Linked DNA regions of Homo sapiens. The protein of the gene in region 1 purifies or fractionates together with the protein of each later gene. This does not show direct contact. Each region holds a gene or a part of one and is shown in the gene's direction. Other genes may lie near its edges. The genes, in order: RIDA, ACOX1 and OGA.

Region 1 (7,111 bases):
TGTATGTGTGTATATTGAGACAGTGTTTCGCTGTGTCACCCAGGCTGGAGCCGGGATCACAGCTTATTGTCGCCTCAACCTCCCGGGCTCAAGCCATCCTCCCACCTCAGCTTCCCAAGTAGCTGGGGCTACAGGCTCAGGCCACCATGCCCAGATAATTTTTGTATTTTTTATAGAGCTGGGGTTTTACCATGTTGCCCAGGCTAAATGTTTTTAAGCAGGGTGGAACATGATCAGATCTTTTAAAAAGAATTCTGATAGTAATTCTGATAGAAATTTGGAGGTAAAGAAAGTGAGAATAGTTAGGGGATATTATAAGTAAAAATTTGTGATTTTTTTTCTCCTTCTGCCCTAATGTCTTTCTCTCAATCACACAGTGGTAGCATTTAGAAAAACATCTTTACCTCCAAACAAGAGGGACACAACCAAATCAAAGTGATTATTAGAGACACTTTGTCCTGGAGCCTGCTAAAGAGCATACCCCTTCCTTGACCTATTTAGAGATACTCTGTGGACTTTGTTCAGGAAAGAAAGCATAACAGTAATGTTCCTGGTTGACTTGAAGGTAGGTGGGAGTCAACTGTCTTTATAAAGCTGAAAGCTAAAAAGAGGGGAATCATCATATGAATGTGCCAGTATGACAAGAAAAAAAGCCACCAGCCAGCTTCATGGTGTGGAGACTTCCAGGACATTGTGCCTCTTGTGCACTAGGTGACTAGAAATGGTGCTTATTTTCAATAGTTAATGTTTAAGAAAAAAAACAGACTGCAACTAACTACTTATGTTAATTGGACATGTTTTAGGAACCTTTTGGGAACAAGAGTTTTTGTGCGTGGAGTGTGTAGTGAGTACACTTTTTGAAAATCCTGGGTCCTCTCCAGGAAGAATTCAAATGTGTTGAACTTTCAGTCCCTGGCATTGGGATGGATGGGGTGTTGTCACTAATTAGCCAATCAGCTCAGCACATTTCAGGAATACTTCCAGACAGAACCTTGAAAGATTTCAACATTGCATTGCTTTGCATTGCGCATTTTGCACACCGTCCTCATAATTATAAATTTTTGAAGCAGTAGCCCGTGTGGTATAGACTATGATGTGAGAATTATTAGAATGCTTTTGAAAGTGTGATTACCCTTTAACCTGGTAGTAGAACAGTGCACTTTTAAATTTTCTGAAGTCCAACCACTTGTCTTTGGATAGTAGGATTCTTATGCTCAGAAAGTGTCAACTAGCCAATTATTCTTATGAACAAACCTCTTTAGATCTGTAAGAGATAACTCACATAGCTCAGATGGTCTCAGCTCCAGTGCTTGCTTTTTATATTTTGAAAATAAAAGAGTTTCTTTTTACTATCATGAAGTTTCTGATAAATAATAATGCATATGGTCTTAAAGTGTGTTTCAGATATGGGGAAAGCTGAAGGCACTTTGCACAGGACCTAGGGCAGACGGCCTAATTCTACACAGGACAGTTAATAAAAAACAGTGTTACTGATGGTATTATTTAACCCGAGAAAAGATTACAAATTAACAAACTCAGTAGTTATCTATTTGTGGGCCAGTATGAAAGCCAGATAGTTGAGAAGACTTTCTAGACTTTCTGAATCATGTTATCAAGTTTAAACATACCTCCTTAGCTCTCTCCAAAGCATTTGCTGTAAGTCAACAGGTCCTGCTAAAAAGAGATTCACTGACAACCAAAATTGTTTATGCTACTAAGTGGTTAAAGAGCAAAACATCAGCAAGTAGTTATAGTGTGCCTACTGTATGCAAGGAATCACCTACACCCTACACAGCTACAGAGACATGGTAAGACATTACCCTGACCTCAAGGAGTTTAGAGTCTAAGATACCTTGGGAGACAGGATAATAACAGGATGAGTTACAACACGAGGCAGGATCCTGTACATAGTATAAGGAAGATACAACCAAAGCACTCCTGGGATCCAGGGGAAAGAAAAGCTTAGTTACTTAGAGAAAGTGTGTGTGTGTGTGTGTGTGTGTGTGTTTAGTATAGTTTTATTTATGATAACAAAATATCAGAAGCAATGGTGACTCATTAAATAAAGTACATCTATATTGTAAAACATATGTAGCTGTTAAAAAAAATGAGGAAGCACTCTACATATACTTATGGAAAGATCTTCATGATATTCTGTTGAGTGAAAAAAACAAAGTGTACAAGAATGTTTAATATACCATATTTTATGTAAAAGAAGAGAGAAAATATATATTTGTTTTGGTTATCTGTTCATTAAAAAAACTGGATGAATACATAAAGAAGAACAATGGTTCTGGGCTGGGAACTGAGCAAATAGGGAACAAGAATGGAAGAAAGACTTTTCACTGCAATTCTTTGTGTATTTTCTGGATTTTTGAACCATATGAACTCCTATTCAAAAATAAATTATAAAGGGAAAAAAAAGATGTGGTCAAGAAGACCAGGAAAACTTCATGAAATAAAAGAGGAAAGTTTGGAGCATGTTGGAAAATGGAAGAATAGGGAACTAAAAGAAGATGATTAAAATGAGACTATCTTAAATTTATAAATAAGCATAGAAATTTTAAAACAAATTTCACTTCTTTTTTTTTTTTTTTGACACAGAGTCTTGCTCTGTTGCCCAGGCTGGAGTACAGTAACGTGATCTTGGCTTACTACAACCTCCACCTCCCAGGTTCAAGTGATTCTCATGCCTCAGCCTCCCAAGTAGCTGGAATTACAGGTGTGCACCACCACTGGCTAATTTTTGTGTTTTTTAGTAGAGACAGGATTTCCCCATGTTGGCAAGGCTGGCCTTGAACTCCTGGCCTCAAGTGGTCTGCCCGCCTCAGCCTCCCAAAGTGCTGGGATTATAGGCATGAGCCACCATGCCCTGCCACATTTCACTTCTAAATTAAAATTACATTAAGTCTTCTTTCTTCAACATTTTAAAAAAACAGATAGGCTTTCTTCATCCCAAAATTAATATCATTCCTATAAAAAGTAGACTTGTTTGGCTTTTTTTCAGGTATCAATGTATTGTTTTCTTTTTCCTGTGATTTTATCCTACTTCTGAAATTTAGCATCCTCATAACAGAAAAAGTCAGTTACAGAAGTAAGCACTTTGCAGAAATGAAGTTGTATTAGTTCGTTTCCACACTGCTATAAAGATACAACCCGAGTATTTATAAAGAGGCTTAATTGACTCACTGTTCCACATGGCTGGGGAGGCCTCAAGAAACTTACAATAATGGCGGAAGGGGAAGAGGCACATCGTATATGATGGCAAGCAAGAGAGAGTGTACATGTGTAGGAGGAACTGTCAGACACTTATAAAACTGTTAGATCACGTGAGAACTCACTATCATGAGAACAGCATGGGGGAAACTGCCCCCATGGTCCAGTCACCTCCCACCAGGTCCTACTCTCAACATGTGGGGATTATGGGCATTACAATTCCAGATGAGGTTTGGGCAAGGACACAGCCAAGCCATATCAGAAGTGGACCCTCAAAAGTATATCCTTAATTGATCCTCCAATAAGCAGTGACTAATCTTGTCTGAAGATGACTACTTATGTTTTTAAAAGTGCTCTTGAAATTGCATTTTTTTGCTTTACAGCTATATTGAGGTATAAGTTACTTATAAAAGTTACCCATTTTAATGGCTGGGTGTGGTGGCCCACGACTGTAATCCCAGCACTTTGGGAAGCGGAGGCAGGCGGATCACCTGAGGTCAGGAGTTCAAGACCAGCCTGGCCAACATGGCAAAACCCCATCTCTACTAAAAATGCAAAAATTAGCTGGGCGTGGTGGCTCACACCTGTAATCCCAGCTACTTGGGAGGCTGAGGCAGAATTGTTTGAACCCGGGAGGCGGAGGTTGCAGTGAGCCAAGATTGTGCCACTGCACTCCAGCCTGGGTGACAGAGTGAGACTCCATCTCAAAAAAACAAGTCACCCATTTTAATTAAGTGTAGTGTTCCATGAGTTTTAGTAAATGTATAGAATCATGCATCCACTATAATAGTCAAATTTTAGAATATTTCTATCACTCCCAAAAAATTCCCTTGTACCCATTTATGATCACCCCTGGCCCTAGACAACAATTAATAATCTGCTGCTGCTATTTTCTTTTCTAAGGTTTCATTTAAGTGAAATAAGACAATATATAGTCCTTTGTTGGATCTATCAGTGGGTGCATGTGTGTGTGTCTTGCTTTTTTGCTATAAATAATGCTATTCTGAACATTCACGTAAACTCTTTGGACATATGTTTTCATTTCTCTTGGATAGTTGCCTAGGAAAGAAATTGCTGAGTTGAGGCTCAAGCCTGTAATCCCAGCACTTTGGGAGGCCAAGGCAGGAGGATCACTTGAGTCCAGGAGTTTGAGACCAGCCTAGGCAACATAGCAAGACCTCATCTCTACAAAAAATAAAAATAAGTAAATAATAAAATAAAAAATTAGCCAGGCATGGTGGTGCACACCTTTAGTCTCAGCTACTTAGGAGGCTGAGATGGGAGGATCACTTGGGCCTGGGAGGTCAAGGCTTCAGTGAGCCAACATCCTACCACTGCACTTCAGCCTGGGTGACAGAGCAAGATCCTGTCTCTAAAAGAAGAGTTTGCTGGGTTGTATGTTAAATATATGTTTAAATTTTTAAAGAAACTGCCAAACTATTTTCTAAAGTGGCTGTACCATTTTGCATTACTACCGACAATGTATGAGGGTTGCTCCCCATCATTGCCAATGCTTACTTTATCAGTGATGTCTTAGTGTGTGGTTTTGCTTTGCATTTCTCTAATGACTACTAATGTTGAGCAAATTTCATGTACTCTAACTCTTTGTATATTTTCTTTTGTGAAGTATCATTTGCTCATATTTTATTGGGTTTGTCTTCACATTATTGACTTTTAAGAGTTCTTCTTATATTCTGGATATAGGTACTTTATTAGGTATATGTTTTGCAAATATTTTTCTCCCAATCTATGACTTGCCTTTTCTTCCCCCGACCCCTTTTTTTATTTTGGGTCTTTCTCTGTTACTCAGTGCCACTGAGGCTGGAGCGCAGTGGTATACTCATGGCTCACTTCAGCCTTCAACTCCTGGGCTCAAGCAATTCAATCACCCTAGCCTCCTGAGTAGCTGGGACTACGGGTGTGCGTCACCATACTTGGCTGTTTTTTATTGTTTTTTGTAGAGACTGAGTGGTTGCCCAGGCTGATCTCAAACTCCTGGTCCCAAGCGATCCTCCTGCTTCACCCTCCCAAAGCACTAGGATTACAGCACCCAGCCCCTTTTCATTTTCTTAAAGATATCTTTGATAAACAAAAGTTTTCAATTTTCATGAAGTCCAATGTATCTGTTTTTTTTTTTTTACAATTTATACTTCTCTGTCCTATCAAAAAAGTCTTCTAGCATTGAATTTTATGTTTTATACTTACATAAATACACTAGCTTTCTGTTTATTGCAGTCAAGCTGTATTAGTCGACAGGACCATTTACATTTCAGGACAGATAGGCATGGACCCTTCAAGTGGACAGCTTGTGTCAGGAGGGGTAGCAGAAGAAGCTAAACAAGTAAGTTATTTTCCACATTTAAGGTTCCCTTTTCTACTACCTTTTTAATGTTGAAGAGCATTAAGAATCCACTTGCCTGATTTGTTTTATAGAGATTAACAGATAAATGTTTTTTAAACTACTTACTGCTTGATTTAACATAGTTTTTGATCTAAGAGTTGGAAATTTGATGGATCATGAATCATCTAACAACCAAAAGAGAGATTCCACCTCCTTAACACTAAGGTGACCTTAAACCTGAATTATTGACGTCAGATGACATGTTGCCACTTCCACATGGATTGGGAAATTTTCTTCTCAGGGCCACTGACCTGCCCCTCTTCAAAAAAAAAAAAAAATTACCACCACAGAAGTAAAAAGTCAACATTTTTAAAAATAAGAATGGGGAATATAATTTTAATCCAATAAATATAATTAAACCATAATTTAGGCCAGGCACGATGTGGCTCACACCTGTAATCCTAGCACTTTGGGAGGCCGAGGCTGGCAGATCACTTGAGGTCAGGAGTTCAAGACTAGCCTAGACAACATGGTGAAACCCCATCTCTACTAAAAATACAAAAATTAGTTGGGGGAGGCCAGGCACAATGGCTCACACCTGTAATCCCAGCACTTTGGGAGGCCGAGGCGGGCAGATCACCTGAGGTCAGGAGTTCAAGACCAGCCTGGCCAACATGGTGAAACCCCGTCTCTACTGAAAATACAAAAATTAGCCAGGTGTGGTGGCATGTGCCTGTAGTCCCAGCTACTCGGGAGGCTAAGGCATGAGAATCGTTTGAACCCGGAAGGCGGAGGTTGCAGTGAGCTGAGATTGTGCCACTCCACTCTAGCCTGGGCAACAGAGCAAGAACCCTGTCTCAAAAAAAAAATAGAAAAAAAAAGTAACCCAGTCAGGTGGCACATGCCTGTAGTCCCAGTTACTCAGGAGGCTGATGCAGAAGAATCGCTTAAACCTGGGAGGTGGAAGTTGCAGGAAGCCAAGATCGTGCCACTGCACTCCTGCCTGGGACACAGAGCAAGACACTGTCTCAAAAAATAAAATAAAATAAAACAATAAACTATAATTTACTGCATTTACTGAGTCATATAATGCTGAAAGTTTGTTTTGTTTTGTTTTGTTTCTTGAGACAGCCTTGCTCTGTCGCCCAGGCTGGAGTGCAGTGTCGTGATCTCAGCTCACTGCAACCTCTGTCTTCCAGGTTCAAGCAATTCTCTTGCCTCAGCCTCCCAAGTAACTGGGACTACAGGCACACGCCACCACACCTGGCTTATTTTTTGTATTTTTAGTAGAGACGGGGTTTTACCGTGCTAGCCAGGATGGTCTCGATCTCCTGACCTCATGATCCACCCACCTCAGCCTCCCAAAGTGCTGAGATTACAGGCATGAGCCTCCACACCCGGCCTAGCTGAAAGATTTTTAAAAACCTAAATATCCACTCATAAAGAACTGGTTGAATAAATTATGCTAGATCAATACAACTAAAGTAATGTGGAAAGATCTCCGAGGTAAATTGTTCCATGGTAATAAAACCAAGATGCAGAACAACATGCACA
Region 2 (7,111 bases), on another chromosome or scaffold:
CAGTGTCTCTGCACCTTTTTAAAAGTCTTCACTTAAATATTGAAGCAGGAAAGGCCTCTCGAAGGGGATTTATCTGTGAAAGCTCTGAAAGTACCATGGCCACTTCTGACAGTCACTTTATTTGAGCAACAGGTTCAGAAGGGAACTGGGTTGTTCCCACAGTAACCAGGGTCTTAATCAATTTCAATTTTTGATAACGAATTGAACATTTAAAAATATATACAGGCCGGGTGCGTTGGCTCACACCTGTAATCCCAGCACTGTGGGAGGCCGAGTGGGCAGATCACCTGAGGTCAGGAGTTCGAGACTAGCCTGGCTAAAATGGCGAAACCCAATCTCTACTAAAAATACAAAAAAAGCAGCCAGGCAGTAATGGTGCACGGCTGTAGTCCCAGCTACTCGGGAATTCTCCTGCCTCAGCTTGAACCCAGGAGAACCCAGGAGGCGGAGGTTGCAGTGAGCCACGTTCGTGCCATTGCACTCCAGCCTGGGTGACAAGAGCAAAACTCTGTCTCAAAAAAAAAAAAAAAGTATACACACACACACACACACACAAATAGAATAAAATATACAAAAAGAGAATTCCGTAGTGCTCTTTGGTACACCCTTTGTCTAGCAGCAATGACTATCAACTCGTGGCTAGTTGTGTTTCATCTGAACCTTCATCCCCCTCCTCCTGGGGACTATTTTGAAATAAATCTAAGACATCAGGGCCAGGCTCAGTGATGCACACCTGGGAGGCCGAGGCAGGTGGATCACCTGAGGTCGGGAGTTTGAGACCAGCCTGACCAACATGGAGAAACCTTGTTTCTACTAAAAATACAAAATTAGCCAGGCGTGGTGGCGCATGCCTGTAATCCCAGCTACTTGGGAGGCTGAGACAGGAGAATTGCTTGAGCCTGGGAGGCGGAGGTTGCGGTGAGCCGAGACCATGCCATTGCACTCCAGCCTGGGCAACAAGAGCGAGGCTCCGTTTCAAAAAAAAAAAAAAAACTAAGACATCAGATAATTTTATCCATAAATAATTCAATGCATAGCTCTAAAAGATAAGGACTCTTCAGAAACAACCACAGGCTGGGCACAGTGGCTCACGCCTGTAATCCTAGCACTTTGGGAGGCTGAGGTGGGTGGATCACTTGAATTGAGGAGTTCTAGACCAGCCTGGCCAACATGGTAAACCCCCATCTCTACAAAAAAATACAAATAGCAGCCAGGTGTCATGGCACACACCTGTAGTTCTAGCAACTCGGGAGGCTAAGGTGGGAAGATCGCTGGAGTCTGGGAGGCAGAGGCTGTAGTGAGCCAAGATTGTGCCACTGCACTCCAGCCTGAGCAACAGAGCAGGACTCAGTCTCAAAAAAAAAACAAAAACAAAAACAAAAAACAGTATACTATTTAACATGGCAAACTCTTTATTAGTAGTTCTTCTCTCTCCTTTCCCCACAGGTCCACGAATCTTACAAGCACCTGAAGTCACTGCAGTCCAAGCTCTGAAGTGTCACAAGGACAAGTTTAATCTGCTTCAGAAAGCGCCTGTGTGCAACTCAAATTTTGTGGAATCTTTTTCGAATTCAAATAGCTATAGAGCAAATGATAAATTGACCCCTTTTTATAAATGGAGGGAAAAAATGAACAGATTTCAGAGATTAAATGAAAAAAAGCAGATGTTTTAAGTGCAATTAACACTGAAAGAGACCTGTTAAACCATTCAGAAAAAGCTTAAGAAATGCGATATGACTTCCTTTTGTAATGCTGCTGATCCCAGTAGACTATGACTTTTGATAATTAGCAGAATTTAACTACTGAGTAGTTGATTATTTTCACATTTTAATTGCTAATCACTGGCTATATAAGTGTTTTTAAGCAAAGGTATTTTTGAAGTGGTGTAGAACCCTTCCAAGCTTTCCTGCTCAGTGTTCTACCAGACTTACCCTGGGGCCTGGCTTAAAAGCAGGATTGAAGAAAAGGGACTGGGGGAAGGAAACTTATTGGAAAACTTGATGCGAATGAGTTTCTGCTTGGCACAGTCTCTGCCTGCTTGCTCTCCTTTGCTGATGGATTGCATTTATCAAACTATTCATGCTAGCATTTTTCCAACGAGGGAACTTATTCCGCACGGGCCTACTGTAGGACCATTGTCTCGTGTAATTAGGAATTTTCCATTTGAAGGATTGCTAAATTGTCACAGTAGTAGGAAGTATAGGGAAACCTCTCAGCTGTGGCACTGTTGTAGCTTTGGAGTGCAGAGTGTAACTCTGGGACAATCAGATTTCACATATTCTGTCATCTTGGCATAAGCCATTAAAAGCTTGGAGATTACTGTATTTGGCATTAAAAAAAAATGTCACTTAGGTCAGCACTCCCAGACGTAGCACAGAAAAACCCTTTGACACAAACCATGTGTTCTGATTTTTGGTTCAGAAAATATTGAAACTGTGAGTTGTTTTTTTTTTAACAACTGGGAAAAAACAAAAACAAAAAACTATAGTTAGAAAAATGGAAGTTCCATAGGTTCTATTTCTTACTCTATGTATGGCTTTGTTTTCAGTCTATTTCTAGGAGCTTTCTCTGAATCGCTAATTGTCCTTTCAGTTGAAATCTAATTTATACAATCATTCTATACTTAAAGGTTAAATACATCTTAATTAATTTTTTCTTAAAGTCAATGTAAGTCACTTTGTTTTGTTTTTTTTTAATCTACGCCATATGCCTCATGAAACCAGCTGTTCTAGAATCAGTCCTGAGAATATGGCTTAATTCCATGGAAACATAACTCCTATCTTGGGACCTGACATAATATCTATCTATCCTGGGGAACTGGTAATATGAGACTTATAGGTTACAGCAGAAATGCTACATGTTGACAAAAGCCTTAATCGTTCCACTGGGAGAACTAATTGATAATTGTGTTAAGATTGAAGATTAACCCTGTGTTAATCTCACTTGAGTCTATCCTGACAGTAGTTCAGATTCTGGAAAATGATAAACTGACCTGCTAGATGTAGAATTGTTTCAAAATTAGTGTTGAAATACCTTGTTCACAGATGAATATCTGGGCAGGATCTGAGGGTGTTTGGAATGACACCCCCCAATCCAGTTGCATAGATGGGATGTCTTTGCAGGTTTGAGGAGATCATCGACCTGCAGAGCCCCCTTTGACCCAGTACCTCACGTTTTATTTAAAATCTAAATCTGGGGCCAGGCGTGGTGGCTCACGCCTGTAATCCAAGCACTTTGGGAGGCCGAAGCGGGTGGATCACCTGAGGTCAGGAGTTTGAGACCATCCTGGCCAACATGGTGAAACCCCGTCTCTACTGAAAAAAATACAAAAATTAGCTGGGCATGGTGGTAGCACGCGCCTGTAGTCCCAGCTACTCGGGAGGCTGAGGCAGGATAATCGCTTGAACTTGGCGGGTAGAGGTTGCAGTGAGCCAAGATGGTGCCACTACACTGCAGCCTGGGTGGCTGAGCGAGACTCCGTCTCAAAAAAAAAATCTAAATCTGACATTTGATGCTATTTTTATTAATATTGGAATGTTCTGTCTTGAACTTTATTCAATATAATCAAGAATAAAGATAGAGTAAACGTCACTGATTTGTACTATTAAGAGAGAAAAAATATGCCACACAACTAAACATAGGTTTAAATTATGAAGAAATTTAGAATAGAGGTTTATTAGATTTAGGGAACACTAAGAACAAAAAAGGAAGGAGTGATACCTGCCTGAGTGGACAGCTGTAAATCAGCTGTAATTACTGCAGTTGTACCAATAGTTGTGAGTGGCTCCAGTCACTTTAGGAGTCCTTGGAAGTACTTGGTACACATTTGTTGGCTGTACCTTAAAGGAAGTGGCAAGTCCAGTTTGTTCTCTCTACCACACTAGACTGCCACTGACAAGTTTGGGTCTGTTGGATTCAAAATTTTGTAAGCCATTTTCACAAGTACAAAGATACATTTTAACCTTGTCTTCTCCAAAATTACTGAGTAGGAATTTTATTTTTATCTTTTTGAGACAGGGTATCACTGTCACCCAGACTGGAGTGCAGTGGTGGGATCTTGGCTTACTGTGACCTCTGCCTCCCGGGTTCAAATGGTCCTCCCTCCTCAGTCTCCTGAGTAGCTGGGACGACAGGCACGTGCCACCATGCCCAGCTAATTTGTTCTATTTTTTCTGTAGAGACGGGGTTTTGCCATGTTGCCCAGGCTGGTCTCAGACTCCTGGGCTCAAGCGATCATTTCGCCTCAGCCTCCCAAAGTGCTGAGATTATAGGTGTGAGCCACAGCATCTGGCCCAGAGTGAGGAGAATTAATGAGATTTTTTGTGTGTGTTAGATAATATTGATTTAAGCCTTTTTTTAAAAAGTACTCTCAACCAAATACAAAATTGAAAATGTGAGGTTTAATAGAAATGTGTTGGCTATTTGCAATGGATTTTCTTCTTGCCCAAGTGTTTGGAGTTCTACTTTATGCTCTGTATTTAAAAATTAGTGACCTCAAAGCAGAGTTGATGACACAGGCTTTGGGGCCCTCATGTTCTTGTCTTTAGAACATATCACTACTAAGTATCAGCTTATCTTCAGAACATTACAACATTCACCGTGTTCATATGCTTTCTGAGAAGTCACCACTTGTAATTTCAGATCACATACACCTGAAGGCATTTTATAGTTCCTAAAGTTAACATGTTAGATCTTTTTTTTCCACCCCATGAGGGTCTCACTCTCACCCAGGCTGGAATGCAGTGGTGTGATTGTAGCACACTTTGGCCACCAACTCCTGGGCTCAAGTGATCCTCCTGCTTTGGCCTCCTCTGAGAAGCTGGGATTACTGGTGCACACCACCACACCTGGCTAATTTTTTATTTTTTTTTATTTTTGGAAATAGGGTATGGCTATGTTGCCTTGGGCCCGTCATGAACTCCTAGCCTCAGGTGACCCTCCCACCTCAGGCCTCCCAAAGGGTTGGGATTACAGGAGTGAGCTACTGCACTGGGCCAACATGTTAATTTTTTTTTTTTTTTTTTTGAGATGGAGTCTCCCAGGCGGGAATGCAATGGTGCGATCTCGACTTCACTGCAATCTTCACCTCCCGGGTTCGAGCGATTCTCCCACCTCAGCCTCCTGAGTAGCTGGGATTACAGGCACCTGCCATCACGCTCGGCTAATTTTTGTATTTTGAGCAGAGATGGAGTTTCACCATGTTGGCCAGGTGATCTGCACTCCCACTCCCCCCACACTTCCCAAAGTGCTGGGATTACAGGCATAAGCCACAAGCCACCTCACCCAGCCAACATGTTACATCTTAATTCTTGGATTTTCTTCACTGCAGGGCTTTGGGTGGAGAAATAAAACTCTTCAAATGCATGATCTTGGAGATCCCTGTGAATCAATAATTCTTTAGACAACTGCGGCTCAAAATCCCTCCTTTCCCTTTTCCGAGTTATTCCATCCATCTTATTAGAAAGGAAGTGAATTAGGTGTAGGTGGTCTGTAACACCTGCACATCTTTTTATACGTGTAGAGGGTATGCCTGGGATATATAGGTTGTCTTCAAGCAGTAGCTGCTACTACAGCTAGAGAGAGGAGGAGTGCCAGGAAACTGATGACCTGAGACCAAGAGTCTTGTTGATGTTCTGACTTAGATAAAGGTTTTGATCATTTTCATGAAATAATGCAGGGAAGTCATTTCTGCTGTTTCTTTACTACTCCATTCTTGGAGGATTAGAACAAGTCACACTGTAATTGACTAAAACGACTTTTTATTTTAAAATATTGATGGTGGGGTTTTGCTTTTTTTTTTTTTTTTTTTTTTGAGACGTTGTCTTGCTCTTTCACCCAGGGTAGAGTGCAGTGGCGAAATCTTGGCTCACTGCAACCTCTGCCTCCCGGGTTCAAGCAATTCTCTGCCTCAGCCTCCTGAGAAGCTGGGATTACAGCGCCTGCCACCATGCCTGTCTAGTTTTTTTGTATTTTTAGTAGAGACAGGGGTTTCACCAAGTTGGCCAGGCTGGTCTTGAACTCCTGACCTCGTGATCCACCCACCTCGGCCTCCCAAAGTGCTGGGATTACAGGCGTGAGCCACCGTGCCGGGCCAGTGTTTTTAACTGTCCACACTTACTAAATTTTCCAGTACTTCTTCCTATGGTTCATGATAGTAAACACAGAAACATATAAGGAACATTATTAGAGTTACCAGATGTTAGCTGTTGCATATGTGCACATTCCTAGATTCAAGGGTGTTTTTGCCTTAAATTTAAGTGGGTCATTGGTTGTCTTGGGAAGATCATGGAAAATTCGGGATTTTTTAGAATTCTGAACCAAAATATGTTTTGAGTGTTTCTTAGTAAATGTGTGATCTTCCACCTTCCACATTCAGACTGCGGACTACACTTCATAAATGCCTTTTTATTTCCAGTTATGGATTCAACTAAATGACTGCCTTGGGAGCACATAATTACTTTGCTACCTTTTTCCCCCTTTGCTGTTGTGGCTCGAGTTTGGTTCTCACCTGAGAAGATGCATTGAGCATATGTTGTTACCCAGCCCTGGCTTAATGGTGTCCTGTGGGGTAGGGGTGGGAGGACGAGGGGCACGGGGCCAGAGCATGTGAATGGATCATGGTTGGACAGCTGTGACCTGCCAGCACTGCGGGTAAGCAAAACTACAAACCGTTCTTTCCTCTGTGACATTGAATAAACCTTAATAAAATTCATAATTAGCACATACTAGAAAAAATGTGACTTAATCTTTTTGTGGGGCGACAGTATTGGGTTTCATTCTGGCTATACAGCTTTGATTGGATCATTAAACAGGTCAGTCACTTCCCTCAAGCTTTGGGGTGTGGAATAAACACCGGTGAATTTGTGGATTCACCCGTCAACCTCCCAATATCAACACATTTCTCACGCCTCCGCGTCGGCCACGTGTCAGCCCTCAGAAGTGGGCAGGAGGAACTTTTAAGCTTCCCGGCAGTTCCCAAGAGGGCCTTTGAGCCTGGCGCCCTCTTCCCGGAGAGGCGTTGGGGCAGCTCCTAGCAACGTGCCCGCCGCCGGCAGAAGCCCGGCCCCGCCAACTGCCGCGCGCGGCTCCCTGGGAGCTGTAGTTCTTCATG
Region 3 (7,111 bases), on another chromosome or scaffold:
GTGCCTTTTGGGACTAGGACACAGCCTGGCTTTTTCATGTCTTAAGGTTACTTACTCATGTTTCTGTATTTTTCTGACTTTGTTGGGTCTTCTACAATCAGCAGCAGCCCATGAGGACTAGGAGGCTAGGCCACTTTGTTGGATCATATTGTCATATAAGTTGAGTATCCCTAATTCAGAAATCTGAAATGTTCCAAAATATGAAACTCTTTGAGCTCCATAAAATTCAAAGGAAATGCTCATTGGAGCATTTCAGATTTTGGATTTTCAGGTTAGGGATGCTGAATATAATACAGATATTCCAAAATCCAGGAAAAAACAAAAATGAAAATCCAAAACATTTTTGGTCCCAAGCATTTCAGATAAGGAATACTCAGCCTGTAGTGCATTCAAACCCAAATGAGAAATGGGTCCCAAAACTGTTTAACTTACGATTTTTTAATTGAAAATGTAAAAACAATAAATCTGTCTTTGAACATTCTAGTAAGGAAAATACTGGATTTTAAGTATAACTGTTAACGCTGTAATGTTTGGAATTCTTAATTTTTTTACTCTTGATTCTTTTTTTTTTTTTTCTCCTAGGTTTCTCAGTTTGGGTGCAGATCATTTGCTTTGCTTTTTGATGATATAGACCATAATATGTGTGCAGCAGACAAAGAGGTATTCAGTTCTTTTGCTCATGCCCAAGTCTCCATCACAAATGAAATCTATCAGTACCTAGGAGAGCCAGAAACTTTCCTCTTCTGTCCCACAGGTATTGTATATAATGGCTTTACATTTAACTAGTCTTCTTGGAATATATAACTTATAAAGGACCATGGGCCCCATTCTCTCTCCACTTCCCTCCTCCTTTGGTGTGTAAAAGTAGGAATCTTTTTTTAGAAGACATTTTTCAAGATCCTAAATTGGAGAAATTTTAGGAACTAATAAATGACAACTGACTAGGCAAAAGATTTTTATGTATTTTTAAGTACTGGAAGTATATGAACATTACATTGTCAATATTAAAAGAGGGATAGTATTGAAATGAAAACTGGAGAAAAACCAAATTACATTGCTTTTACCTTAGTCACTTCTCATTTCCTCCTACTTGTCCCCTTTTTCTGCCCATGCATATCTGTCCCTTTTTGCACTCCTCCCACTCCCATCTGGGCTCTTATTTCAAGTAGTCAGCATAGAAAGCTTAACAGTTTTTCCCGTTTTCCTTTCTTTTTGCCCCTCTGGTTTCTTTCATTGAAAATATTTTAGTCTCTTAGTTGCTTCTCAAAATTCAACTTACAGGAAGTTTTCCCCACACTTCCTTGTTCAGGAAGAATTTTAGATTAAATTATTTAACTTTCTTTGTGTGTATTGTGAGCCGAGAACCTTATTTTAGTTGAGTACTACATTAGTACCCAGAAGTTTTAAGATTATACTGGGAATTAATTAGCTGCAAGTTACAGTTTAAGTTGCAGTTGAGTACTAATAGCCATTGGTATATGCCTTTAAAAAAATTTTTTTTAAATTTTACTTTTAAGTTTGTATTATTTATTTAGAGACCGGGCTATAAAACTGGCTAATTTTTATATTTTTGGTAGAGACGGGGTTTCGCCATATTGCCCAGGCTAGTGTCGAACTCTTGGGCTCAAGTGATCCACCCGCTTCAGCCTCCCAAAATGCTGGGATTGCAGGTGTGAGCCACTGTGCCCAGCTGCCATTGGCATATTCTTGTATTAGTTCTATTATGATATTATCAATTCATTCTGTTTGGCGTTTAATTGTAACTGAGAAAAGTAGGCAATTCAGAATTCTGTAGAAAATGCTGCAGTTCTTGTTTTTTTAGTAAACTTGTATTTCTAGTAACTGTAGTATCGTAAGAATTGATCTGTACTACTGTTGGAGGAAAAATACCAGATTTTATGAATTTCTTAAATGAACTGCCCACTTTAGTTCCTTGTAGGAGGCCTTTTATCATTTAGATGAAAATAATTTAGAATTGGCAGACATTTTTTCCACATTCAAAAACCCATGGGCCTTTTGGGAGGCCAAGGCGGGCGGATTGCCTGAGCTCAGGAGTTTGCGACCAACCTGGGCAGCATGGTGAAACCCCATCTCTACTAAAATACAAAAAAAAATTAGCCGGGCGTGGCGGCGTGCGCCTGTAGTCCCAGCTGCTTGGGAGGCTGAGGCAGGAGAATTGCTTGAGCCCAGGAGGCAGAGGTTGCAGTGAGCCGAGATCGTGCCACTGCACTCTAGCCTGGGCATCAAGAGTGAGACTCCGTCTCAAAGAAAACAAACAAACAAAGAGAAAACCCATGAGCATTTTAATTCTGACTTTTTTACTTTTCTCCCTACATTTAGAATACTGTGGCACTTTCTGTTATCCAAATGTGTCTCAGTCTCCATATTTAAGGACTGTGGGTGAAAAGCTTCTACCTGGAATTGAAGTGCTTTGGACAGGTAAGTCTTTTAAGATTTATACAGTCAAAGTTGAATTAAGTAGGACTTGCAGAAATTGCTTGTTCTTGTTAATTGAATACTTTTTTTTTTGAGACGGAGTCTCACTCTGTCGCCCAGGATGGAGTCCAGTGGCATGATCTCGGCTCACTGCACGCTCCGCCTCCCAGGTTCACACCATTCTCCTGCCTCAGCCTCCCGAGTAGCTGGGACTACAGGCACCCGCCACCACGCCTGGCTAATTTTTTGTATTTTTAGTAGAGACAGGGTTTCACCATGTTAGCCAGGATGGTCTCGATCTCCTGACCTCGTGATCCACCCGCCTTGGCCTCCCAAAGTGCTGGGATTACAGGCGTGAGCCACCACGCCTGGCCTTTTTTTTTTTTTTTTTTGAGACAGAGCATTGCTCTTGTTGCCCAGGCTGGAGTGCAGTGGCACAATCTCAGCTCCCTGCAAACTCTGCCTCCCGGGTTCAAGCAATTCTCCTGACTCAGCCTCCCAAGTAGCTGGGATTACAGGCACACGCCACCACACCCAGCTAATTTTTGTATTTCTAGTAGAGACGGGGTTTCTCCATGTTAGCCAGGCTGGTCTCAAACTCCCGACCTCAGGTGATCTGCCCACTTCGGCCTCCCAAAGTGCTGGGATTACACATGTGACCCACTGCACCTGGCCCAGAGAACTTGTTAAAATACGCTTTCTTTTACAAAGTTTACATATTCTCTTAATATGAAAAAACATCTATCATGGTTGGGGAGCCTGAGTGGGGAGCCTGAGGTGGAAGCCCCCAGGAGTTCAAGACCAGCTTAGACAACATAGAGAGACTGTAGAAAAAATAAAAAACTTAGCCAGGTGGGCTGGTGCACACCTGTAGTCCCAGCTACTTAGGGGGCTGAGGTGGAAGGATCACTTGAGCCCGGGAGGTAGAGGCTGCAGTGAGCTGTGATCATGCCACTGCACTCCAGCCTGAGCAACAGAATGAGACCCTGTCTCAAAAAAAATTCAGTTAATAAATAATAAAGATTTATAGGGAATTGGGCTAAAAGGTATTGATCCCATCCTTAAGCAGCGTTAGGAAACTCTTCTATTTTATAAAACGAAAAAAATAAAGCTCAGTAAAAGACATGTTGTGTTTTCAAAAGAAAAATTGTGGCTGGGTGCATTGGTTCGTGCCTGTAATCCCAGTGCTGTGGGAGGCTTGAGTTGAGGTAGGAGGATCGCTTGAGGCCAGGAGTTTAAGATTAGCCTGGGCAACATAGCAAGCCCTTATCTGTACAAAAAAATTTTAAATTACTGTGACATGGTGGGGCACACCTGTAGTCCCAGCTACTTGGGAGGCTGAGGTGAGAGGATTGCTTGAGCTCAGGAGCTCAAGGCTGCAGTGAGCCATGATTACTCCATTGCACTTCAGCCTGGGTAACAGAGGAGACCCTGTCTCAGAAAAAGAAACGTTGTTATAAAATGTACATGTAAGGGGCCAGGCGCAGTGGCTCACGCCTGTAATCCCAGCACTTTGGGAGGCCGAGGCAGGCGGATCACAGGGTGAGGAGATCGAGACCATCCTGGCTAACACAGTGAAACCCCATCTCTACTAAAAAATACAAAAAATTAGCCAGGCGTGGTGGAGGGCGCCTGTAGTCCCAGCTACTCAGGAGGCTGAAGCAGGAGAATGGTGTGAATCCAGGAGGCGGAGCTTACAGTGAGCCGAGATCACACCACTGTACTCCAGCCTGGGCGACACAGCGAGACTCTGTCTCAAAAAAAAAAAAAAAAAAGTACACGTAAGGAAAACAATAAAAAGTTATATATGCAGTATATTTTAAAGAACCATGATTCTTTTTTTTAAATATATTTTTTAATTTAAAATAAAAAGATAGGGTCTCGCTGTGTTGCCCAGGCTGGTCCGAACTCCTGGGCTCAAATGATCTGCCCACCTCTGCCTCCCAGAGTGCTGGGATTACAGTTATGAGCCAATGCGTCTAGCCAAGAACCATGATTCTTTTAACGAACGGTTGTCGTTATTTCTAGGTCCCAAAGTTGTTTCTAAAGAAATTCCAGTAGAGTCCATCGAAGAGGTTTCTAAGATTATTAAGAGAGCTCCAGTAATCTGGGATAACATTCATGCTAATGATTATGATCAGAAGAGACTGTTTCTGGGCCCGTACAAAGGAAGATCCACAGAACTCATCCCACGGTTAAAAGGAGTCCTCACTAATCCAAATTGTGAATTTGAAGCCAACTACGTTGCTATCCACACCCTTGCCACCTGGTACAAATCAAACATGAATGGAGTGAGAAAAGATGTAGTGATGAGTAAGTAGCCTGTACTTGATCTTTCACCTTGGGAGGAGAGCTGGGGTTAACTAGAGCCAGTGGAAAGTATGCATTCCTTTGTCATCACAACTTAAACAGTTTTATTTATTTTTTTAAAAACGTATTTTGTTTTACTAAGGAGGAAACAAAACCAAGTGGTTTTATTATGGTATGTTGTTTCATTCTGTTGATGAAGATGTATATGATAGAAGAAAGGTTGAGTGTCTTTGGACAAGTCACTTAACCTCTTTGCCTTAGTTTTTTTTTTTTTGTTTTTTTTTTTTTTAGTATGATTCAGAAGCAGCGTGGTGGCTCGCTTATAATCCCAGGAAATGCACTCCAGCCTGGACAACAGATGAAAATCCTATGAAATAAATAAAAATAAAATATGGTTCAGTCTTTGAAGTCTGAGTACTAGAGGAGACAGTCTTTTAAGTGTTTCCATTATCTCTAGAATCATTCGGATAAAATGTATTTTCAGGCAATTTTATTGAAAAGGATATTTTAGATAACTAGATACTCTTGAGTCACTTAGATCATTTAGATTCAGCTTACATTTATCTTTTATGGAACATACTCTTTTTTTTTTTTTTTGAGATGGAGTTTTGCTCCATCGCCCAGGCTGGAGTGCAGTGGCGCAATCTCAGCTCGCTGCAACCTCTGCTTCCCAGGTTCAAGCGATTCTCCAGCCTCAGCCTCCCGAGTAGCTGGGATTGCAGGCACACCCGGCTTTTTTTTTTTTTTTTTTTTTTTTTTAAAGTAGAGACAGGGTTTCACCATCTTGGCCAGACTGGTCTCGAACTCCTGACCTTAGGTGATCCACCTGCCTCGGCCTCCCAGAGTGCTGGGATTACAGGCATGAGCCACCCTGCCTGGCCGAATGGAATACAGTCTTATTTTAGACATTGGCTTACTAATTTTTAATTTATGAAAAATCTCTAATTAATAGAGTTCTAAGTAAGGTGCTTGATAATTATTTACATTTAAATAATCTGTCATGGGGCAGATGCATGTTCATGGGCACTGAGGGGGCAAAGAATAAAGTAGTTTTTTTTTTTTCTTTTTGAGATGGAGTCTTGCTCTTGTTGCCCAGGCTGGAGTGCAGTGGCGCAATCTCAGCTCCCTGCAACCTCCGCCTCCCAGGTTCAAGTGATTCTCCTGTCTCAGCCTCCCGAGTAGCTGGGATTACAGGCATGCGCCACCATGCCTGGCTAATTTTGTATTTTTAGTAGAGACGGGGTTTCTCCATGTCAGGCTGGTCTTGAACTCCTGACCTCAGGTGATCCGCCCTCCTGGGCTTCCCAAAGTGCTGGGATTACAGGCGTGAGCCATCGCGCCCAGCCATTCCTACTTTTGAGAAACAGTCTAGTGTTGGGTAAGGCTTATAGGCAATTGTACTATAGTGTGATAAGTGTTGTAATAGTTTAATTTATAAAGTGCTGTGTGAACACGGGAGAGAGTGATTATTTTTGCTAAGAGATTTCACAGACTTTTAAGCTGGATCAAAGTATGAGGAGAGTTTGCTGGGCGTTAAAGGTTTGTGGGCTGGAGGTTAAAAACACTGAACACTGAAAATTTTTTTTTTTCTTTGAGACAGAGCCTCGCTCTGTTGCCCAGGCTGGAGTGCAGTGGCGCGATCTTGGCTCATTGCAACCTCTGCCTCCCTGGTTCAAGCGAGTCTCTGGCCTCAGCCTCCTGAGTAGCTGGGATTACTGGCGCACACCACCCCATCTGGCTGATTTTTATAGTTTTAGTAGAGACAGGGTTTCACCATGTTGGTCAGGCTGGTCTCGAACTCCTGACCTGGTGATCTGCCTGCCTCTGCCTCCCAGAGTTCTGGGATTACAGGCGTGAGCCACTGTGCCCAGCCTGAACACTGAACTTTTGAAGTTCCCTGAATTTTGGCCCATTTTGGCTACTGAAGTGTCATGATAGTATGTAGTAATATTAATAGTTGTCATCTGTTTCTCAATTCCATACCTCTGCTTTGAATTGTTTATTGAATTAATGTCTCCCTTTTGTTTGGCTCAGTCATTGTCATCCTCCTCCCCTCAATAAAAAACAAATTGGGAATATAATTTAAATGCTGTCAGCGTACATGGCACTTAACTCCTACATCTTTTAAGGCACAGCAAGGAACATACTAAGGGTGGCAGACACTATCCAAACCTGGGACATACGTAGGAAATATTAAGGAAAGCTAAGAATAGAGAGTTTTTAAGTACAAAATCAAAAAATTCAGACTTAATTTTCTCTACCACTATCCTGGCTCAGAGCTTTGTTGCCTTATGTGTGCTAATTTGTGGGTCTCTGTCGATTATCTCTTTTTTTTTTTTTTTTCTGAGACGGAGTCTTGCTCTTG

The links.
Region 2: the proteins of RIDA (region 1) and ACOX1 purify together in Homo sapiens (affinity purification with mass spectrometry; 2 studies listed by BioGRID and IntAct, with this or other methods). This does not show direct contact.
Region 3: the proteins of RIDA (region 1) and OGA purify together in Homo sapiens (affinity purification with mass spectrometry; 2 studies listed by BioGRID and IntAct, with this or other methods). This does not show direct contact.

What each region holds. Positions count from the first base shown.
Region 1 is NC_000008.11:98,107,092-98,114,202, reverse strand, and holds part of RIDA (2-iminobutanoate/2-iminopropanoate deaminase), read left to right. Parts: intron 1-5,451; coding exon 5,452-5,557; intron 5,558-7,111. UniProt on the Homo sapiens protein: Catalyzes the hydrolytic deamination of enamine/imine intermediates that form during the course of normal metabolism. May facilitate the release of ammonia from these potentially toxic reactive metabolites, reducing their impact on cellular components.
Region 2 is NC_000017.11:75,941,131-75,948,241, reverse strand, and holds the end of ACOX1 (peroxisomal acyl-coenzyme A oxidase 1), read left to right. Parts: intron 1-1,446; coding exon 1,447-1,494; 3' UTR 1,495-6,735; downstream 6,736-7,111. UniProt on the Homo sapiens protein: Involved in the initial and rate-limiting step of peroxisomal beta-oxidation of straight-chain saturated and unsaturated very-long-chain fatty acids.
Region 3 is NC_000010.11:101,801,373-101,808,483, reverse strand, and holds part of OGA (protein O-GlcNAcase), read left to right. Parts: intron 1-582; coding exon 583-754; intron 755-2,340; coding exon 2,341-2,439; intron 2,440-4,464; coding exon 4,465-4,749; intron 4,750-7,111.